Regions from separate parts of the Homo sapiens genome. Here regions 2, 3, 4, 5, 6 and 7 are each reported to be linked to region 1. The links are microRNA targets in miRTarBase. Many come from high-throughput screens and were not tested one by one. Region 1 holds a microRNA gene; each other region holds the end of a gene's coding sequence.

Evidence for each region. The annotated mature microRNA hsa-miR-15a-5p reads UAGCAGCACAUAAUGGUUUGUG and lies in region 1 at 1,405-1,426, shown strand. An mRNA with a match to its seed (bases 2 to 7 or 8) in the 3' UTR can be bound and repressed. Matches are read on the target gene's strand: a 7mer-m8 pairs with bases 2 to 8, a 7mer-A1 pairs with bases 2 to 7 and ends in A, and an 8mer does both.
Region 2: miRTarBase lists NAB1 as a target of hsa-miR-15a-5p. The part of its 3' UTR that is shown has no 7-base or 8-base seed match.
Region 3: miRTarBase lists LSM11 as a target of hsa-miR-15a-5p. Seed matches in the 3' UTR shown: 8mer at 623-630 and 7mer-m8 at 2,653-2,659.
Region 4: miRTarBase lists PDHX as a target of hsa-miR-15a-5p. The part of its 3' UTR that is shown has no 7-base or 8-base seed match.
Region 5: miRTarBase lists ZNRF1 as a target of hsa-miR-15a-5p. Seed matches in the 3' UTR shown: 7mer-A1 at 2,539-2,545.
Region 6: miRTarBase lists TMEM100 as a target of hsa-miR-15a-5p. Seed matches in the 3' UTR shown: 8mer at 1,867-1,874.
Region 7: miRTarBase lists PRSS21 as a target of hsa-miR-15a-5p. The part of its 3' UTR that is shown has no 7-base or 8-base seed match.

Annotation. Positions count from the first base shown.
Region 1 is chr13:50,047,496-50,050,592 of GRCh38, reverse strand. MIR15A (microRNA 15a) reads left to right here and starts at 1,392; the gene lies at 1,392-1,474. DLEU2 (deleted in lymphocytic leukemia 2) reads left to right here. Exons shown (of 14, transcript NR_152566.1): 6 at 931-1,009. It overlaps MIR16-1 (microRNA 16-1), which reads left to right and starts at 1,532; the gene lies at 1,532-1,620.
Region 2 is chr2:190,689,742-190,692,838 of GRCh38, forward strand. It overlaps NAB1 (NGFI-A binding protein 1), which reads left to right. Exons shown (of 10, transcript NM_005966.4): 10 at 504-3,025. The coding sequence ends at 592. Among named protein-coding and RNA genes, the nearest start is that of NAB1, 42 kb to the left of the region's middle.
Region 3 is chr5:157,754,688-157,757,784 of GRCh38, forward strand. LSM11 (LSM11, U7 small nuclear RNA associated) reads left to right here. Exons shown (of 4, transcript NM_173491.4): 4 at 167-3,097. The coding sequence ends at 577. Among named protein-coding and RNA genes, the nearest start is that of LSM11, 13 kb to the left of the region's middle.
Region 4 is chr11:34,994,567-34,997,663 of GRCh38, forward strand. PDHX (pyruvate dehydrogenase complex component X) reads left to right here. Exons shown (of 11, transcript NM_003477.3): 11 at 348-1,562. The coding sequence ends at 606. Among named protein-coding and RNA genes, the nearest start is that of MIR1343, 54 kb to the left of the region's middle.
Region 5 is chr16:75,106,274-75,109,370 of GRCh38, forward strand. It overlaps ZNRF1 (zinc and ring finger 1), which reads left to right. Exons shown (of 5, transcript NM_032268.5): 4 at 209-298; 5 at 1,460-3,097. The coding sequence ends at 266. Among named protein-coding and RNA genes, the nearest start is that of LDHD, 9.0 kb to the right of the region's middle. RefSeq lists enhancers at 1,393-1,562, 2,757-2,906, 2,937-3,016.
Region 6 is chr17:55,718,051-55,721,050 of GRCh38, forward strand. It overlaps TMEM100 (transmembrane protein 100), which reads right to left. Exons shown (of 2, transcript NM_018286.3): 2 at 1,577-3,000. The coding sequence ends at 2,616. Among named protein-coding and RNA genes, the nearest start is that of TMEM100, 3.3 kb to the right of the region's middle.
Region 7 is chr16:2,820,936-2,824,032 of GRCh38, reverse strand. It overlaps PRSS21 (serine protease 21), which reads right to left. Exons shown (of 6, transcript NM_006799.4): 5 at 2,924-3,078; 6 at 2,314-2,667. The coding sequence ends at 2,428. It also overlaps the pseudogene EIF1P4. Among named protein-coding and RNA genes, the nearest start is that of PRSS21, 5.2 kb to the right of the region's middle. RefSeq lists an enhancer at 3,000-3,097.

The sequences.
Region 1 (3,097 bases):
GGAAGTATACTCCTAAAGTTTCCACTTACTCAGATGTAGAAATGAATTTCTTTTTCTCTAAAAGATACGGAAACTACTCTCTTAAAAAAAGAAAAAATAAAAATTTAAAAAACGTTGTGCAGAAACTTGAGACAATAAGGAGCAGAGTTATATGTGAAATCCAGGTTGCTTAGATAGGAGATTAGCTACATATATTTTTTATTAATGGGAAAAATACTCAGAAAAATTTCATATGGAATGTGACCCTGTGCTTTGTATAAGTAATTAGATATTAGAATGGAAGAGCAAATTTTAGTGCTTTGGTTGTGTACATCACCTTACTATTCTGTAATAGATGTAACTTTAGCATAGTCATTTTAATGATGAGAACATGGGGCAAAAAAGATTGTCCAGGCTTGAATGGTGGCACCACTAGAGTGGTGGCAATTTTCTGATATCTTTTAGAGAAAAGGAATTTCATTTCTACATCTGAGAAAGTGGAAACTAGGAGTTTCTTCCTTACCTGGTAAATGGGCCAGAAACAGGGAATAGGAAGATTAAGAGCTATGGGATTTGTTTTATTTCTCATCTCAGGGTACCAAATTAACTCATCATCCCAAGGATTCATATTTTAGAATTACTTAAGGATTCATATTTTAGAATTACTGTATCAAATGATATCCAACTCTAAGAGAACTTCTAGTATGAAGATCAATGTTGAAAGTAAAATATTTAGATTATTAATAACAAATTATTTAAGGGAGAATTAGTTTGTTTAGAGCTTTTTTTCTTAACTATATTTGGAATTAAAATGTCTTAATTAGATATTTAATAAAATTAACATTTAGAATTAAAGTATTTTTCTTTAAAAGTATATTTGCATTTTGCTAGCTTAAGTTTATTGAAACTGAGCTCTTGTATGTCATTTCATGTTTTTCCCTTGATGTGAAGTCTTACCTATTTGATGAAGATGTCTTTTGAAAGGTGTACTGCAAGGAACAAAATGTTTGTAAATTCTCCTTTTACCAAGGTAAAGATCAAATTTTATAAATTTACTTGTTTGTTTATACAAGGAAAAATAACTTCATATATTGAATATATTCAAAAGTTTAAGCATTTAGTTGTATTGCCCTGTTAAGTTGGCATAGCAAATAAATGCTTTTCTTTTCCTCATTTTATTCTTTGTGTTTCCTAACCTATAGCACTGTGCTGGGCACAGAATGGACTTCAGTTAAGTTTTTGATGTAGAAATGTTTTATTATTCTACTTAAAATCTCCTTAAAAATAATTATGCATATTACATCAATGTTATAATGTTTAAACATAGATTTTTTTACATGCATTCTTTTTTTCCTGAAAGAAAATATTTTTTATATTCTTTAGGCGCGAATGTGTGTTTAAAAAAAATAAAACCTTGGAGTAAAGTAGCAGCACATAATGGTTTGTGGATTTTGAAAAGGTGCAGGCCATATTGTGCTGCCTCAAAAATACAAGGATCTGATCTTCTGAAGAAAATATATTTCTTTTTATTCATAGCTCTTATGATAGCAATGTCAGCAGTGCCTTAGCAGCACGTAAATATTGGCGTTAAGATTCTAAAATTATCTCCAGTATTAACTGTGCTGCTGAAGTAAGGTTGACCATACTCTACAGTTGTGTTTTAATGTATATTAATGTTACTAATGTGTTTTCAGTTTTATTGATAGTCTTTTCAGTATTATTGATAATCTTGTTATTTTTAGTATGATTCTGTAAAAATGAATTAATACTAATTTTTCAGATGTATCATCTCTTAAAATACTGTAATTGCAATTTAATAATTGTATTGAATGCCATCAAGTTTTTTTAAAAAGCTTATGCAGCATTAGAGGAATTTATTTTAATGCACATTTATATTCAACATAGACATTAATTCAGATTTTTACTTGGGATAAAACAAATTCTAGTTTTCCCTTTGTTTTGAAATTACTTTTAAAATATGTCTTTACAGATAAATATAAAATATATTAAGCATTTTGAACAGAGCTTAGAAGACAATATTTAGTACTGTTTCTGAATATTTCTTTATATCTGAAGGGGAAAAGCCATCAAAATATGTGAATTAAATACCTAAAATTCTGGTTGTCAAAACGTCACACTTAACCATAACTTTAAAGGTAGAAAAACCCTTACAAGTGACCAACCCACTCATTGGATAGCTAAGGAAACACAAAACTCAAATAATTTGCTACACATCACAGATTGGGGTCTTAGTCTTATGTCTTCTAACTTTATAATGGTATACTATTTTTTTCATGTTTTTATTAAAATGTTTTCTTAAATCCTTAGCCAAAGATTTTTGTTTGATAAGTCAAAAATAAGGTCTTGTTTACTTTGTTTACTTTTTTGTATTCAAGATTTAACTCAGAGTAAGACCAAATTATCATTGTAGTTTTATTGATATAAAATGTCAACATAATTTAATTTTTTTTTTTACTTTTTTGTATTTTTAAAATTTTTTATTAAAAATAAAAGTAGACAGCCAGGTGCGGTGGCTCACGCACTTTGGGAAGCCGAGGCAGGCGGATCACCAGGTCAGGAGATCAAGACCATCCTGGCTAACACGGTGAAACCCCATCTCTATTAAAAATACAAAAAAAATAGCCAGGCGTGGTGGCGGGCGCCTGTAGTCCCAGCTACTCGGGAGGCTGAGGCAGGAGAATGGCATGAACCTGGGAGGCGGAGCTTCCAGTGAGCTGAGATCGCACCACTGCACTCCAGCCTGGGTGACAGAGGGAGACTCTGTCTCAACAAAAAAAAAAAAAGAAAAGAAAAGTAGAGCTGGGCACAGTGGCTCAAGCCTGTAATCCCAGCACTTTGGGAGGCCGAGGAGGGTGGATGACGTGAGGTCAGGAGTTCGAGACCAACCTGACCGACATGGTGAAACCCCATCTCTACTAAAAATACAAAAAATTAGCCGGGCGTGGTGGCACATGCCTGTAGTCCCAGCTACTCGGGAGACTAAAGCAGGAGAATTGTTTGAACCGGGGAGGCGGAGGTTGTAATGAGCCCAGATCGCGCCATTGCAATCCAGCCTGGACAACAAGAGTGAAACTCCATCTCAAAAAAATAAATTAAA
Region 2 (3,097 bases), not on the chromosome of region 1:
AGGTTATGAAGATATTTTTCAGTCTGATTCCTTCATTGATGGTAAATATTTTAACCAGTAACAGTTATTTATGAATAATCAGCTTCCTTTTATATATTTATCATGTTGGATCAAGCATTAAATAAAAATTAATATATTCTATATGCTAAATGTTTTATGTGCATTTCATTATTTAACTTTCGTGCCACTTTATGTAGATACTATTCCTATTTTATAAATGAAGACATTAAGGCTTAGAGAGGTGTATAACTTGCCCAGAGATGTATACATCTATACATATATGTATACTATATGTATACATCTAGTAATTGGCAGAGTTGAAATTTAAATCCAGAATCCAAGCTCTTAACAGCTCTATGAACAAAAATTTTGCATGGAATTACAGAATCATGAATAGTTGATACTATTTGATATGGAGTTTGGGGGTTTGTTTTAAAACTTTGTTTGATTTTTGTAGTCCATTGATTAAAATATCAACTCACTTTGTTTCCATTTTTATGTAGAGAGCCTTGGGATTTTAAAAGACTACCCTCATTCAGCTTTTACCTTAGAAAAGAAAGTCATCAAAACAGAGCCTGAAGATTCAAGATAGCTGTGATTTCTCTCACCGTTCTCTGGAAATGGCATCAGATTTAAGGATAATACTCCATCATAGAAATAAGCCTTAATAACCAGTGTTGCCTCATTCAGCTCAAACAGATTTCATAGCCAAAGCAAAAGGACTGGTACGGTAGTCTGTGGAAACCAGGAAGATAAAACAACAGCCACAAAAGAGAAAATCAAGAGTGTTGCAATCTATAACAGTAATATTGATTCATTCACATTCCTGTGTTAAGTCATTTTATATGGAAAGGCTTACAAATCAATATTGTAAGCATTCATTATTTAAGAATGTACAATGTATTTGTGTAATTTATAGAAGTAAAATCTAGATGTTGAGACCTGTTTGGTCTAATAGATGTGGATACAGTTTATTTTACTTGAAATTTTGTTGTCTACTTTGTGTGTTTAACGTAAATATATGTCAGAGTTTAGAATCTGCCTGCAGTTGTGAAAAAGAAAGCTTAAGTGATGCAGTTATTGGCAAGATTGCAATGATTATGGAAAAATAGAAAGCGAATACTCAGTTTAAGCCAAGGAAAATATTGTGGATTTAATATTTGATAAAACTGATTTTGTTTAACAGGAAATTTTTAGCATTCAGTCATATAACATCTGGTTATCAATGCACGTTTACACAATAAATACTTGAGTGGAGGAAAGTTAAAAAGATGAGCAATAGAGTAGAAAATATATCTTAAACTAGTTGACCTAGATTGTATTAATAGCTACTTAAGATGTTTCAAAGATAGGAAGCTATTGCTTGGACAGAGAACTTGAAATAAGTGGACCCATGTATAAAAGCTTTGACTTAAACATTGATATTTCAGAATGTGTTAAATAGATTAAGACACAGTAAGTTAACCCTACATGTTATAAAGATGGCGACTGTTAACAAAGGCTGTAACAGATTAAGTACTATTTTATATCCAGAAAGTCTTCTCTATGTAGAGAAGTCAGAGAGACTAGATGCTTTCACTAGGGAATGTCTTCCCACCCAGCCATCACAAATGTGGACAATCACTGCATCCACATCTGTAGGCATATTTCTATGGAAGTTTAATTGACAGCTATATTCATTATTTATTTTACAATTTCATTTTTCTACACCTTTGAGATTTATGAATGCAGTTTTTTCTTAAAATTTATTTTAACTTGACAGTATGTTTTTAGTTCCCCCAATTTAATTAATGGACCATGTGCATATATATGGGAGTGTGCTTACATGTTAATAATTTACTTGCATACTTATGAGAATTTCACATTGGAATTCATAATGGTAAAACAACATACATCTGCCAATATACGTTTTTTCTGTTGGTTTAAGAGAAGATAACTGACAGCTTTACCTACTTCCTACAGATGCATCTAAACCCAGATATTACTGAGAAGAGTGTATTGACTCTGAGTGTAAGAGAGTATGTGTTTTTTTGTTTTTAGTTCTGCTCTAGATCATAATTGTAAAAAATATTAAGTCATAATCTGTTACACTAAAATTTGTCAGCCAAATGTTAGATGAAATGTCTGCACTGTAGTCTCAGATCACTGTCACGTATATAAATTGCTTCTTCATTTTAATTTGTAGAAGTACTTTACAGTAGGAAACGCCAGTAAACAACTTTTATACTGTTAAAAGGCTTTTTTCCCCTTCCTAAATGTTTTAATTGTACCATAGTGTTTTGCTCACTGAAGAAGCTTCTTATGGACCTTGCAACTTTGTTGCTAGCTTGAGGTTGATTATTGTGGTTGTATTGTTCACTGTGTGTAGAAATAGTATGAGTACGATTTCAATAGACTGTTCAGTTTTTAATATTAGCCATAGCACTGGTTAGTATATCTCAGTAGTTTCATGAAACGTTTCCTGTATTCTAATCTATTTTGAAACATTTTGTTTTTTTTTAATTGTGTCTTACAGTCAAGTTTGTAGATTTTCATAAGCCACAATTTTAAAAGATGCAGTAATCTTCCAACTTCCAATATTTATCCATTCGTTGTGGACCCACAGATTGCATCTTTAAATTCATAATAAGTTTCCTTAACTATCTTATGTTTCTAGTCTTTCAAGCTTAGTGATAAGGTGGAAGCACAAGAAAAATTTCAGTAGAATACAGTTTTTATTTTGTAAACACTAATGTATTAAACTTGCTATACATTAAAGCAAATAATATATATTTTTATTTGAATTGTATATGTGAATTGGAAGTTATAATTAGTTGATTTTTTCATTTTGTTAGAGGTATTTTCACTGAACAAGGTCAATTGGTTACCTCAGTATTACAGCCAATATAGTCCAAGGGACCATTTCTCCCCGAGTCTCTTACACTTTATTGTGCGATGTCCACGTTTTTGTGACTCTTCAAGCTGTTGGTGAGGTGGGACGAATGCACTTGCTTCCTGTGGCAATAAAGATTTTCTGTGCCTCACACATTTATGTTTATAGCATTTTCTACATAGAAGTTTTCCAGTGACTAATATTAACCCACTCTACCTCGCTTAT
Region 3 (3,097 bases), not on the chromosome of region 1:
TCTCCAAAAAAAAAAAAAAAAAAAAAGATTTATTACTAACTTTTAAAAAATTGCAAAGCAAGGAGTCCACAGAACATAATTAAAGAATTTGGTCTTTTTCTGTATGTTGAAAGAGGGTGATGAAGGCTAAAGAGAAGGCTAATATTTATCATTGTTTGCTTTATAGCTATTTGATCGGCTGAAACTTCAAGATTCCTCCAAGAAGGAAGCAGATTCTAAGTCTGCAGTTGAAGATTCCACTCTGTCTAGATACTCACAGACATCCACTTGGAAGTTGGCTTCAGTGTGGGGAAGAGCAGACACTGGCCGGGGCTCACACAAGCGTTCCCGCTCTGTCCCTTCTTCCCTGCAGGCCTCTGCAAGGGAGGAGTCCAGGTCAGAGCTGTCAGGGAGGACTACACGGACAGACGGCTCCAGTGTGGGAGGTACCTTTTCCAGGGCTACCACCCTTTCCAGAGGCCAGTCCCGTAAGAAAAAGCGAAAGCCCAAAGTGGATTACCAGCAGGTATTCACTCGACACATAAATCAGATTTTCATTCGAGGCGAGAATGTCCTGCTGGTTCATCTTGCACAGTGACCAGCTCAGCCTGAGCTTTGGTTTTTAGAAATAAAGTGCATGAATTGCTGCTATGCTGTATCCTAGTATCCCAGTGAAACTCTGAGTTGGAATGATTCCCTCTGGTCCTGCATATGCAGAGGACGGAGCAGGCTCAGCCCCCTGGAAGATGAGCTCAAGGGGAGGACAGGCCTTGGGAGGGCAGGCGTTTGCATTAATATCAAGGCAAAAAGCATTCATAGATACATGCATCTGATTTGGTATTGTGATTTACTTCAGACCCTGAAACCAAATATCTGATCTTCCATTAGACTTAGGGGTCATGATATGAGTGGAATTTACATTTTAGATACTATAGGGGAAAGAAAAGTCTCAAAAAGAAGTATTGCATGTCTAAAAGCTAGTGCCCTGAGTACTCATGAATTCGATTCCAAGAGTAGTGGTGTAAATTGCCTTGGAGCCCTGCATCCACGTCTTGTAACTAACTTTTGAATTTTGCCTGACATGATTCTCTCTTGATGAAGAAATGACATATATTATCTTTGAATATCTACAAGGAAAGTTACCAACTTATGTAGGGGTGAAATTTGGATAGGCGGTATGCTCAAAGCAGCCAGCAATGAGTGCTCTGTTTTGATCCTTCTTCTTATTATGGAAAGGAGTACAGGACCTCTTCAGTCTTCCCCTTACCAGAGGTAGCCTCTGCAAATGGCATACCAGATGGGACTCTAAGATGCTTGTGTGGTGGCTTCTTGTCCTTCTCTTTGACTTCTGTGGCATGGTGCTAGTGCATGTACCCTGTGGTATTGCCCCTCTGTCCGTAGTGTGAACTGTCCTGTGAGCTTTATGTCAGGAGACTGTGACCTTCATGTCCAGCTTCAAAGAGTTGTGCATGAACTCGGTAATACACATCACACGGCTGAGAGTCCCCTTTCCAGGCAGGGCCAGCATGTGTAGAATATCTTTCAGAATATGGTTTCACCATGAAACAGGGGTGGTAGATTTATTCCCTTGTGTCAGGCCAAAGAAGTTCTTACAAAGTACAGTGGGTAGTGTCTAAAGCGACACTTTACTCACAGCCTGGCTTGAGTCAACAGGAACACCATAGCACCCACAAATACTTCTACTTGAATCATATTCTGTGCTTTTTCAATCACTAGTGCAGAATAGGCTGCATTTGACACAGACTGTTAGGCAATATTGATTTTTTTGTTTTGTTTTTATTTGGTTTTATCTGAGATAACTTATGTTCAAGGTGAGAATAAGAAATAGCCAACTAGTTAAAATGTATGAAAAGAAAACTTTCCCCTGCTGTATTTGTTGTGTAACATAAATAAGCCTTCTGAGAAGCAGGGTGAATAAAGTTTAGGGAGCTGGGACACCTGGTCCTGCTAGCTGGACCACTGGCTCATCATGCAATGAAAAGGTGAGCAGACTTAACCCCTCCGTGCCTCAGCTTTTTCCCCACAGACACCTACCTCACAGGGGCATTGAGAAAAAAAAAATGAAGGCATTTTACAGTCTCTAAACATCTTTAAGTGCCATGAGTAATTTTTCCTGACTCTGTTTCATAGCTTTGTAAGAATTCTGTGTCTTTATAAGACACAGAAGCAAGGCAGGTGCTACATAAAAAAGTAATCTCAGCCAGGCACGGTGGCTCACGCCTGTAATCCCAGCACTTTGGGAGGCTGAGGCGGGTGGATCACAAGGTCAGGAGATCAAGACCATCCTGGCTAACACGGTGAAACCCTGTCTCTACTAAAAATACAAAAATTAGCCGGGCGTGGTGGCGGGCGCCTGTAGTCCCAGCTACGTGGGTGGCTGAGGCAGGAGAATGGGGTGAACCCGGGAGGCGGAGCTTGCAGTGAGCCAAGATTGCACCACTGTACTCCAGCCTGGGCGACAGAGCAAGACTCTGTCTCAAAAAAAGGAAAAAAAAAAAAAGTAATCTTAGGGTTCATAGTTATGATCCTGTTGTAACTATCTTCGGAAGGCAGCAGTATCTTCTGGAACTTCCATATTCCATTCCTTCCTCCTAAGGGACAATGGAAGTTCTCAGAAGAGTATCTTCAGTAAGAGGAGAGTAACTTTTTTTTTGCTGCTCCCGCTATATCCCAGGCCTCACCCTTTTCTGATCATTATCAGAAAGAATCCCCTGAACTTTTCAAGGGGTTTATATGGTAGCACCAAATGGAGAATGAGCATCTAAAAATGACACATCCCGAAAGGGCAATCTGTGGAAGTTTGTTGTTTGTTTGTTTTTATTTTTAAATGCATTGTAAAGTGTACTCTAGAGCCAGATCAGGTGCACTAAAGTTTATAGAGGTTCCAGTTTACAAACTCAAGTGAACAGTAATCTTTGGAAGCTGCCAGTCTAAATTCTAAATAGTGTATCTGAAATCTCAGTTCCCAAAATAGTTGTCAGGTTTAATCATCAGGCAACACTGCGTATACCTGTGTGGCTATCCTCATCTGCCTGCCCTCTCATCCCTCGGCTAGAATGATGTACTCTACTTTCCCAATAAGGTAGAAATTTGGAAT
Region 4 (3,097 bases), not on the chromosome of region 1:
CAGCAGAAATTCCTGAGCTCCATTATAATCTTATAAGACCACCGTTGTATATGTGATCCTTCGTTATGTGGGACATGACTCGATATAAAATGGATTGTTATATTGACCTTTTATCTGATGACTTAACTAAATTTACTTATTAATTTTACTAGTTATCTATAGTCTCATTTTTCCTGTGTACACAATTAATTTATTTGTAAATACTAAATGTTTCCTTTTTTCATTACTCATATATTTTTTTCTTGCCTTACTACACTGCCTAGTAAAATATATAAAATATGTGCTTCACGGAAAGGGGACTTTGATTAAGGACATGCCTCCTTCAGAGCTTTTTCTTTTCCCCCTAGTATTTCCAACTTGGGGATGTTTGGCATCGACGAATTTACTGCAGTGATTAACCCTCCTCAGGCCTGCATTTTGGCGGTTGGGAGGTTCCGACCTGTGCTGAAGCTCACTGAGGATGAAGAGGGAAATGCCAAACTGCAGCAGCGCCAGCTCATAACAGTCACAATGTCAAGTGACAGTCGAGTGGTTGATGACGAACTGGCAACCAGGTTTCTTAAAAGTTTTAAAGCAAACCTAGAGAATCCTATCCGACTTGCCTAGTCCTCAAAGATAAGAAGTTGGTGTTCAGCTTAGTTGATTCAGTAGTTGTTACCAAGAAACATATGTTATAGGAAAACAACTTGGTATTTAAGTATGAAGTGGATGAAATGTTTATTTATTTAAGGTGAAAGCATTTGACCCAGGGTGTCTTCATCTTCAATTTGGGTTTAATGTTATAGAAATAAATGATGATAAACTCTAACTAATAAAGGAAAGAGAATATTTGGTTACTCAGATCCATTTTTAACCTCTGGTGCTGTATAAAGGGAATATTAAACTAGATGTAAATCAAAGTATATGTTTGGCTCATTTGAGCATTTTGGAATATTTGAGAATGTATGATACATGTAAAATTAAAAAAACTATTAGAACTGTACCATAATTATGTTGAAGGTAGAAGTGATCTTCAAAGAGATGGCCATTAACTTAGCAGTGGGACCTCACTTTTACAAGCACTGCTCTAGATATACTTGAAGAATTTAATAGGTACAGAAGTTTATTCTGGATAATAAATAAATAAGGATCACACTGTATTAGGGGTTATGGCAACATTATTGAATTTTTTATGTACATAAAGCCATATGTTTAGGGTGGTTTCTATCTGTCTTGTTTTTCACTTATATAACACTGTGAACTTCTAAAGCAAGAGGATAAAAGAAGCATGAATGAAAAGAATGACATTTCAAAAAAATGGTTCAATGAAAAACTATAGCTAAAATATGTAAACCTTTCTAGGTAAACCGCTTGCCTTCATCTTGAGTCGGAATATATTTAAATAAATTGTGTTATCTCTTGCCAAACATTTTGTTAGTGTTTATTTAAAAACAAAATGTTGTTTCTTAATGCATTTAAATCAGTTTTGTATTGTGCAGTAAAATGTGAGAAAATATAAACATTTCTATTGTATTTTAAATGTTAAAACACAAAAGTTCAATAAACCTTGAAGTTGATTAGTAGTTTTTCTAGAACACCTTTAAAAGGGCTCTACAGGAGAAAAGACGGAATTTAAAATTAGTATGACATTAGGAAAGTAACTGATAGGAAATGTAAAACTTTGGAAAGAGAATAGAAGACTTATGAAGCCAAACAGATGAGAACTATCCTTTTTATTTCACTAATATGAAATTTTCACTAATTATTATAAAGTTTAGAAGAGTTTGTTTCTCTCTTTTGGCAGCTCTGCTATAACTGTCAAGATAACTATATTTAAGTTGGATGGTAATGAATGGTAATTTAATTAACTTGTCACAAAAAGGTTTATGTTAGTGTCAGCTGACATGAATCAATAGAAGAAAGGCTAATATAGTACAAGTTGTATGGTATGACATGATGAATTATAAACCCTAACAGAAGAGCCTTCTAAAATAATTAGCACCCTGGTGTATTAATTGTTAAGAAAATGCTTAATCCAACTATCCAACTCAGTTTAACAAGCCATTTAAAAAAAATAGTCTTCAAAACTTTTGTCATATTAACAGTTACACTGAAAATTATAACCAAAGGCTATTTTCAAAATAATTTTTATGTTACATTATTTCCAAGGTCAGTTTTAATCGAAATTATTATTATTATTACTACTTTTTCTTGAGATGGGGTCTTGCTCTGTGGCCCAGGCTGTAGTGCAGTGCTGGGATCACAGATCACTGCAACCTCGACCTCCTAGGCTCAAGTGATCCTCCTCCCTCAGCCTCCCGAGTAGCTAAGGACTAAAGGCATGCACCATCATGCCTGGCTAATTTTTCTATTTTTTTTTTTTAGAGACAGGGTCTTGCCATGTTGCTCAGGCTGGTCCCAAACTCCTGGGCTCAAGTAGTCGACCCACCTTGGCCTCGCAAAGTGCTGGGATTACACAGGCATGAGCTACTGTGCTAGGCCGTTGTTTTTGTTGTGGTTGTTGTTTGTTTGTTCATTTTAATTTTTATATCTGAGGAACAGAACATGATGAGGCAGCCATAAATAAGCCTGACTCAGAGTTCTGCTTTTCATGAACTGACGTACATAAGCAGTAGTGCATCTGTTTCCCTATAGGTGAAATGGGCATTAATATTTACTCAGCCTGCCTTAGAGAGTTGAACTGTACAAGGGAAATCGCTGTATAAATTTAAGATGTTTTAATTCATGGACCTCACAACCAGGCTTTTCATATAATCACCTGCCTCTCATGGTTTGACTTCTCAGCTTCTGGTACAAATGCTTGTTCATTCTGACCAAAAATATTGTCTCTGGTATTTCTATACTGATGAGGTGGTTTAGATTAAGGAAGTTTTCATTTCTAAAAAGAATTTTGTTGTAGTTTGAGATCAAAGAATAACACTGAGAAAGGAGTATGGTATACTTGGTTTGAACTGTGTGCTACACTACCAGGCCCCTTCCACATTATACTACTAATTTATTTAAAATAGATAGGTATCACACTGAGAGGATATAAAAAAAATTTCTGCCTCTTCATTTTTGTTTCTTGTTTGAACAGAAAAAATGACCAAAATATTGG
Region 5 (3,097 bases), not on the chromosome of region 1:
TCCACCTGGGCCAAGACTAGTCTTGGTGTTCACCCTTCTTCGTGCTTCAGAAAGTAGGGATATCTGGGGACATGACTGTGTTTCCCTGGGGTCCTTTCAGAAGAGACTTAGGAAGCTCCTGCTCAGGAATCTGGCCCTCTGAAAGAGCCCCTTCAAAGCAGCCTGGGCAGCAGGTAACGTGGTTTCCCTTGCGGCCCCCTCCTCCCAGCTGCATAGACTCGTGGTTTGAAGTGAACAGATCTTGTCCGGAACACCCTGCGGACTGACCTGCGGGCTTGCTTGCTGACTCCTCTCAAAGGTGAGCCCGCGTTTGGGGGTGCTCCGGGCTCAAGGCTTGGGGTCAGGTCACTTTGGGGGCCTGCAGTTTAGGGAGCCGGGCTGCCCTTATGCCACTGAGAAGAAAGCAGGAGCAGAGGGAAGGAGCACCTCATCAGTGAGCAGTTAGTCATCCGGAAATGATTTTCCCTGGGAAGGACAAGAGATACAAACCAACATGGACAGTTATGAAGAACAGGCTCAGAAGAGTTAGGATCAGTTGGGGAAGAGACCAGTACAATCTACATTCCTAAAGAAAGTTCAGGAATATCCCCTGGGAATGTGCACGGGCAGGAAAAGGAGCCTGAGCGGTGGGTTTGTGCCTGGCTTGGCCTCATCCTCGCTCACCTCTGAGTCTCCGCCTCTTCTATGGTAACGGGGATAATCTCACTCCCTGTTGCCATAAGGACATTGCACTTACTAAACAGCCATGGGCAGTGCATTGTTCCCTGCAAAGTGCTGGTCAGCGATCATTTGACCACTGCTTCTTCCCATGCCGCTTCCAGATGAATCTGAGGCCTCCAGGCCAGACTCGATCCCTCTATCCCACAGCACTGGGTGCTGACTCCACACATCCCCCTGGCTTACCGCTGGGTCTGGCCTCCCCATTTCTCCCCCAGGGGTACCCCACTTGCTGCCAACCATCCACCCCTGACCCCCATCTCACCTGTCCCCTCCAAGTTCTGGGCTGGCATTTTCCTTTTTCTGGCAAACAAGTAGACAAAACCCCCATAAAAACCAAAAGCCCAACTCCATCTCACAGCCAAAGGTTTTGGGACCTTTTTCTTCCCCCCTCCCTTTCTCTCTCTCTTGCTTTCGTTTTCTTTTGTTAGGTTTATTTTATTTATTCCAAGTAAACTCCCAGAACAGCTGATGATGTCAGACAAATCAGGGACATTTGCTCTTTTTACCTCCACCTCAAAAACTGATGACAAGGGGAGAAGAAAGAGCCAGGGGGGAGAGTGAGGCAGGGGAGTAGAACCTGCCCAGGCACATGGCTGCAAATTCCCCGTGTGCTGTTTGGCTTCTGGGGTCCTGTGTAGACGCCCCAGCCCCGCCTGCCCTCTTGGGATGCAGCTGCCCTGGGATGAGCAGACAGCCCTCGGCCCGATGGAGCACGACTTATTTATTACGGTCCACACAGGGACAGAGCGCCCCTGCTCCAGGGAGGAGGCTCACCGGACCCTGGGGCAGAGCTGAGCTTGGGACACCAGCGGGAACAGGGCACCCCTTCTGCACTGACTTCCAGATCATGGTTCTCCCTTCCTCCCTGAGGACACCAAATTGGATGAGAGCAAGTTTGAGAGAAGAATGAATCAACTGCTATCCTTCCCCTCACCCCTCAGCCCAGGAGGGAAAGGGCATTTTCTTTTTCATCTTTGAAAGGCATTGTGGGTCTGTCTTTAAAGTGTTTACAAAAAAAAATTATATAAAAAAAAAGTCTAGTGTCGACTGGTGTTTTCCCTCGTGATGTTTACAGCTTGCTGTTTGCTGCCCAGCCATAACCCACTCAGTGACAGACGAACACAGCTAAGGCCTCGCTGCCAGCCTTCTGACGGCGGGCGAGCACACGGTCTCTTCCCCTGCCCCAACTGGCCCTCTCCACCACCAACTTCTCTACTTTGGGTTTGTTTGGTTTTTTCCCTCTATTTTTCTGGCTGGTTTTTTGCTCTTTTCTCCCCTTGAGACCCTAATATCTTGACTTCATTGCCAAAAAACAACCCATTGAGAACTTTCTTCCTACTGATCCCATCTCTTTTCCCTTCTTTCCTCCTGGTTCCGGTCAGTTCAGAGGATTTAACAATCACAAGTGTCCTGCAAAAATGCCTGAACATTATTCTTAGGCCCTCGTGGATTTTTTTTTTCAGAAAACTTAAACAAAAAAAGACTTACTAAGAAATATGTACAGCTACCCCTGTTTTCAGGCACTATGTTTGAGAACATTTTAGCCATTGATGTTCACACGTGGCATCAGCCCATGCAAGATAGGTTTCTGTATTTATATATTAAAATACAAAAAAAAACTTATAAAATGTTTAAAAAAATGTTCAAAGCTTGGGAGAAAAGCTTTCTTCATTAGTCAAGGTGTTTTGATATGGTATTAAAATGTCTAATAAAAGATGGCACTGCGTGATTTTATTTTAATGAAGTGTTATACAATCAAGAAATGGGGGCAAGGGCCTGCCCCCCACTCCCTCACCTACCTCCTTAGCATTCCTTCAGGCTGCTACTCGGGGCTCCAGGTGTGTGAATTGGTCCTCAGATAGTCAGGCCTGGGTGGAGGGAGTGGCAAGTCAGGCGTGCCTCCTACAAGCTTCCTAACCTCTTAAGCATCATGGAACCAGTCAGCCCTCTGTGGAGTCATTGTGCTGGACCTCTGAAAAGATCTGCAGGGGCCAAGATGTTGCAGCCACCGGAGGCTGCAAGGATGTGGGTTCTTCCAGGTGTGGGCCCAGCCCCCCTCCTTCCAGCCTTTGCTCCCCATCCCACGTTCCACTCGCCCTGCCTGTTGTTCAGTTTGCGTCTCAGTGCTGACTCACGGGCATGCTTCATTGAGGCCCAGGAAGAGGCCCTGGTTTGGGGCTGTGCCAGCTCAGAGCCCTTGAACCAGAACCAACTGCTCAGGCTCACAAAAGTTGGCAAAATGCGGGCTGGGCAGGCAGCTCGGGGCAGGGAGCAGCAGTGCAGGCCTGGCCTGTGTCCCCGTGCCCAGCGGGCTCCCGGAGCAGCATTCCAGAGCCTCCTGCAGAGCCAGCGAAGGAAAGCTCTAGAGGGAGACGAC
Region 6 (3,000 bases), not on the chromosome of region 1:
AGTGTGTAGAACTATCTCTGCGCCGTGCAGCTATGTAACAGTATATACCTTTTAATGTGACTAGAAGCTCCCTAAATGGAGCAAGTCTTTCCCGTACTAACAGAACCCCAAGATAGCCACTGTGAAGTGGCTTAGGGAAGTGTGTAAGGGTGGGATAAATGGAGAATCTCCACCAACTCCTCACGTTTAGGAGAGATTTGATCCCATTTTGGTTATTACAATTTAGGTCTTTCCATAGAACTGTTTCTTCTGGGACTCAAGTAGCTGCATGGGGCCCCCTGGTGGCCGGAAATAATTCATGAGTTTGCTTTTCAAGCATTTTGAAGGCCAGGTCAGGCTAGAGAAGAATAGAGAGTAAATATTCGCCTCCAACTGCTGCTTACAGTGGAGGTGTAATAGAGAGTGAGATGGCCTCTTTGGGGGAAAAATGAGAACTAAACTTTTTTCTTTAACGAGATTAGAATGGACTATAATTCTGGATAAACCATTCACTTTCTGATTTTTTATTTTTTGGCTCATTTAGCACCTTAATTAGGTACTTATTGAGTACTTAATCTCCGTAAGCCATTATGTTAGGCATTTCACTAGGGTTAAAAAGAGGATCTATCACACACTTCTAAGGAGCTTTGGAATAAGGATAAAACTTATGCCACCAACACGACAGAAAATAAAAGATGCCATCAGAGAATAAAAGATGAACTCACGAAAGGGCATTTACTTTCAGATAAAAGGGAAGACTTCCGGGAAGAGGTAGCATTTGAGCTGAGTGCTGATGAGAAGCAGGATTTGGGGAGATTAAAATCAAGGAAACAATGGCACTATAAGCGAGGGAAAACACAAGTTTGGACAGACATGGAGGCAGGAAAACCAAAGTCGGGTGCAAGAATGGTGAATAGTCTATTCTGGCTAACTCATAAGGAGGTTTGGGGATTAGAGTGAGTATGAAAACTGGATACGTCCTTTTGGATCAGACTGGAGAATCTTGAACCTTGTCTGAGTAATTTCTTAATACAGCAATGCGGTGGCGGGGTGGGGGGTGGGCTTTGAGTATCTTTGCACGGAGAAGAGGCATGTGAAGGCACAGACTCACTTGCATTGAAATGAGCACAGCCCCCTAAACTTGCATTTGGTTGGGAGGAATGTTGATCTGTACGTGACACCATCTGACCTGCAAAGTCATTTTTAGGGTGTTTCCACTTACCAAAACTACCTGAGCATGAGGGAGTAGTAAGGGCCCCAGGGCTCCTGTCATGTTTAATTAAATTTCTGGACAGAAAGACTTTCAATGAGTGTGCTATGCTAGGCTGATTTTGTTTTCCAAGTTTTAAGAAACCTTCATGCCTATCTTTCGATTCTAGCTTAAGGTGGTTTAAACTACATGAATGAGCTGTATTTCTGGCTGGAGTTACAGGGTAGAGTCCTAGCTGTGGACTAGCTCAATGTCCACTGAAGAATTCAAGCAGTAACTTTATTTGCATTGTATTAGATCTAACTGAGTAAGAAACCTGAGAATCTACATTATGCCTGGCATATAGTTGGTGCTGGCATACGTGTTAAGCAAATAATTAACAACTGATTCCACAAAAATGTAATATACATTTAATAGCACATTATAAAGTTCCTGACCAAAGACGTTGATTTCCTAATTATAATAGCACAGAAATCCTTTAGAATTTAGTAAACGTAATTAAGACTATTCAGAAGTAATGAAAAACCAATATGATAAAAACAAAAATCCTCCAGTAAAGAAGGAACCTGTCCATTTGAGAGAAATACAATTGAGAACTTGCAAATGAGACAAGGGAAGATGGCAATTTGGAACTGCAATAGAAATAACTATAGCAGAAACAACCATTTAAGAAGTTTTAGCAGCAATAAGTATTTATTATTCTGAATGAAATGTACAGTTGACTTTTATATAAAAATCATCAAAAGTGCTATATTGGATTATTTTACTATTAATTTAACCCCCAACAGCATCTATTAGCTATAACTTTAATGGGTTTTTCTTTACTTCTGATACATCATTACAACTGGCTAACACTGTCCAATGTTAAAATATAAAAAATATTACTTTTCAAGATAAAGTACCACCAGTGATGAGTTATTAAAAGTATAAAATGAAAACAGACGCCAGTGAATCAATGTATTGAAAAAAATTATCACAGAATTTCATAGACATATGCGAAACCCAAGGTAATTTAGATCCTTGGCAGAACATTTTTATGATACATCTTAAGACTGTAGGTTATTTCTTTTGGAGGCAAATGTCTAGTGTGCCAGGCCTATCTTGATTTTTCTCATCTTTTCTTGGCTACTTTACAGGGTGAACCAAATACTGTCTAATGCTGTGCACTCCCATGACCCCCAAAGTGTTTCATGTAAATAGAAAGCTGATTTTTCAGTCTCAGAAGTAGCCCTTAGGGTTAAGTTTGTCGTTAAAGAAGACATGAGTCATTCCTCACAAAGGAGAAGCCCCTCCACCCTCCCACCCCCATTCTTCCAGTCTGCTCCAACGCCAAGTCTGTTCTCTCCCACCATGGTTCTGGGTGAATTGGGTGACAAAGTCAGAGCACGTTTTCCAGGCCCAATGGCCCATTTGGTCGTATTCAGTCTCAAGCAAACAAGCTTCTCTGATTTGCCACGAGAGCTGTTTGACTCTCCCGTCTCTTGGCTTTCTTGCTCCTTTGTCTCACTTTCCAGCACAAGGCACTGGAGGCTAGTAAAAAAAGTCCAGATGACAGAACAACCAGGCCAAAGATGGAGATAATAGACCCATGGGAATTGAAGCTGTAAGCCACCGCGGTGACCACGATGCCGGCGATGAAGACAACCACAGCAAAGGGGATGATGCAGCGGTAGCAGGAGAGCTCGGTACCCCCTGTAGCAGCCATCAACTGAATCTCACTGACCAGAGGGACTGTGGTGATCACAACTTCACTCTTGGGGCTCTTCTCCATCGTCGCTGCCATGTGAGCCTTTGGGGCTCCCAGGATCTCC
Region 7 (3,097 bases), not on the chromosome of region 1:
AAAGCAAACAAAAAACTAGGCCAGGTATGGTGGTTCACGCCTGTAATCCTAGCACTTTGGGAGGCCGAGGCGGGTGGATCGAGAGGTCAGGAGTTTGAGACCAGCCTGGCCAACATAGTGAAACCCCGTCTCTACTAAAAATTACAAAAGTAGCTGGGCATGATGGCACTCCCAGCTACTCAGGAGGCTGAGGCAGGATAATTGCTTGAACCAGGGAGGCGGAGGTTGCAGTGAGCTGAGATCGTGCCATTGCACTCCAGCCTGGGTGACAGAGTGAGACTCTGTCTCAAAAAAAAAAAAAAAAAAAAAAAAGGATGACAGGCAAACTGGCTGAAAGCTATTGTAGCCATTAAGTAGCATTTCATGACTGGGTTGAAATAAAGCAGAAAACAGGGCCAACTCTATAAAAGGGACCACTAGTACAATTTGAACAAGTTGTGTTAGCGATATCGCCAAAGTTACCCACTAGGTGGAGTGAAGCATGTTTTTAGGTCCAGTTCTGTTAAGTTACCCAAAGCAGTTACTGGCTGTAAAATTTTAATTACACATTATCCTGTCAAGGGAGAAAGGTGCGCATTAAGAGAGGTAAGTGGACCACCATGATACGGAATCTCGTTTTGATGGTCTTGGGAAAAGCTGCAGTATGAAGCCGGCAATTTTGCAGTTAAAATGTCTCTGGTTATGGCCTTGGATGGTTGGTGAACTCTGTGCGGTCCACACATCAGGCACAATACTTGTCCCTTGATATTTATGTTAAGTTGTTTTGTTTTAGCTCGCAGGGCATTTATGAAAGAGCAGCTTCCAGTTTTAATAATTCCGTAGGAGAAAACTGGATTGGAGGAACTTAGAATTTAGGGTCCAATATAGTCTACAGGTAGATGATAAAACTGATCTATAAACAATTTAAATATGACATTCCAAAGCCTTCGTAATGTTACAGGATCTCTGGGGTGTTGTTTTTCTGGCTGGAAATCTGTGGCTGTTGGCGCCTTGGCCCGAGTTTTGCCCGTTTCCACTGAGGAAAAGGAGTCATCTCGTATGTCCACTGTCCAGAATCTCCACTCTTCCACCCCTTTGCTGATTTAAGTAAGAGTGATGACCTGCTCCCTGCAGGCACTGAGGAATACATCCATGCAAGGATTTAACAGAGAAATGACAGGAAAACCCTTAGCACTGTCTAAGCGATCACTAAGGATTACAATAAAAAGCAACTAGTGAAGGCATTTAAGAGGAAATTTCCCTGCAATGGGACGGTAATTGAGCATCCAGAATATGGAGAAGTCATTCAGCTACAGGGTGACCAGCGCAAGAACATATGCCAGTTCCTTGTAGAGGTGGGACTGGCTAAGGACGATCTGCTGATGGTTCAAGGGTTTTAACTACTTGTGGCTCACTGAAACTTAAGTGAGGATTTCCCTGTAATGAGTAGAATTTCCCTTCTTTCCCTTGTTACAAGTTTTAAAACCTCACAGTTTGTCTAATTTAACCATTTGAGGTCTGCTTTTAACTTGAACTAGTGTAATTCCTTTATGCAATAAACTGCAAAAATAAAAATAAAAAAATAAAAACATCGCTAAGGGAGGACCATGATTTTCGAACTTGGAGCCAGCTGGAGTCCCACAAGGGGAACCATTATTGCCTACTTTCTGGGTGCTCAGAGCCTCACCTCGGGGCTGCCCCAGCTCTGAGGCATCCCGTGCCCCAGAACTACTCTCAACATGGTGGGGGGAGTGGTCAAGAGAGAAACGCCCACCGTGGTGTCCTTGTCCTCAGTGGGCCAACGCTGAGGCCCCCACAGGATTGCACCCCAGTTGCCTAGAATGGTACCCTCTATGTTTGTGTAAGCTCATTGGTGTTCCTTCCTTCCCTGCCTCGGTTTCCCCATTTCCTGCAATCCCCTCCCAGATAAACTACCTGCACCTATGTCCTGGTCCTAGGTCAGCCTTGGGGGAACCATAGTAAGATCAGGATGTCTGGCGTTTCTGTGCCGGATCCTTGTGGGGTGAGGGATGTCAGGATTGTTTCCTCCAATGCACACACCCCCAATCCAGGCTTCCCAGCTCCTGGCACCCTGGAACTACTCCTGTTCCATTGCTGAGCATGATGTGCGTCTATAATTTCAGCTACTCAGGAGGGTGAGGCGGGAGGATCGAGACCACCCTAGGCGTTCAAGACCAGCCTGGGCAACACACAATTCTCTTTCTGATCGAAATAACCAGATGGTTCTATGGTGCAGAACAGATGTGGGTGTGAGCCAGGGGCACAGACAGGCTGTCTGCACAAGAGAGAATGAGCTGTCCATGAAGCCACTGCTTTTGAAGAATGCCCTGCAAGGCATCAACTGGAATGTGTTTATTACCAAACAAGACAGAAGAGAACCAGGGCCTGACTTGGCAGTGGCCCCAGGCTGCATGGGCTCAGGTAGGCTCAGACCGGCCCCAGGAGTGGGAGAGCCCAGAGAAGAGGGAAAAAGAGTAGCGGCCAGGAGGGGTCTGGCTGGGACATGCCACTCTGGGCCATCAGCTTCTGGATCCACTCAAAGTGGTGGCTGATATTGGTGTAGACACCGGGCCGATTGGGCCGACCACAGCCCACTCCCCAGCTCACGACTCCAATCTGATACCACAGTCCATTCTTGTTACAGGCCAAGGGTCCACCTGAGTCACCCTGGGGAGCAGCGGGGCTGAGGTCAGCCTGGGGCAGAGTGAGTGGGGCAGGGGAGGGGCTGAGAGTGGGAAGGGCTATGGGGCTGGGTAGACTGGGTGCACATCCTCCTCCTCCCCCTGGCAGCAGCCAAGCCTCCGTTTCTGCATCTGCAGAGTGGGGCAACAGTCTCCACCTCCCGGGGTTGGCATGAGGGTCAAATAAGGCACAGGGACACAGGATGCTTTCCTGGGCTGGGAGTGGTGGCAAGGACACTCACGAAGCAGGCATCCTTCCCGCCTTGGGCATTGCCAGCACAAACCATGTCTCCAAAGATGTCCTTGCGGAAACTGTACTTGAGGAAGAGGTGGTTGCACATAGAGTTGTTTATGATGGCGACCTGAACTTCCTGGAGGGTGTGGGGAGATGGCAGTGCTGTGCGGACGATAGTGGG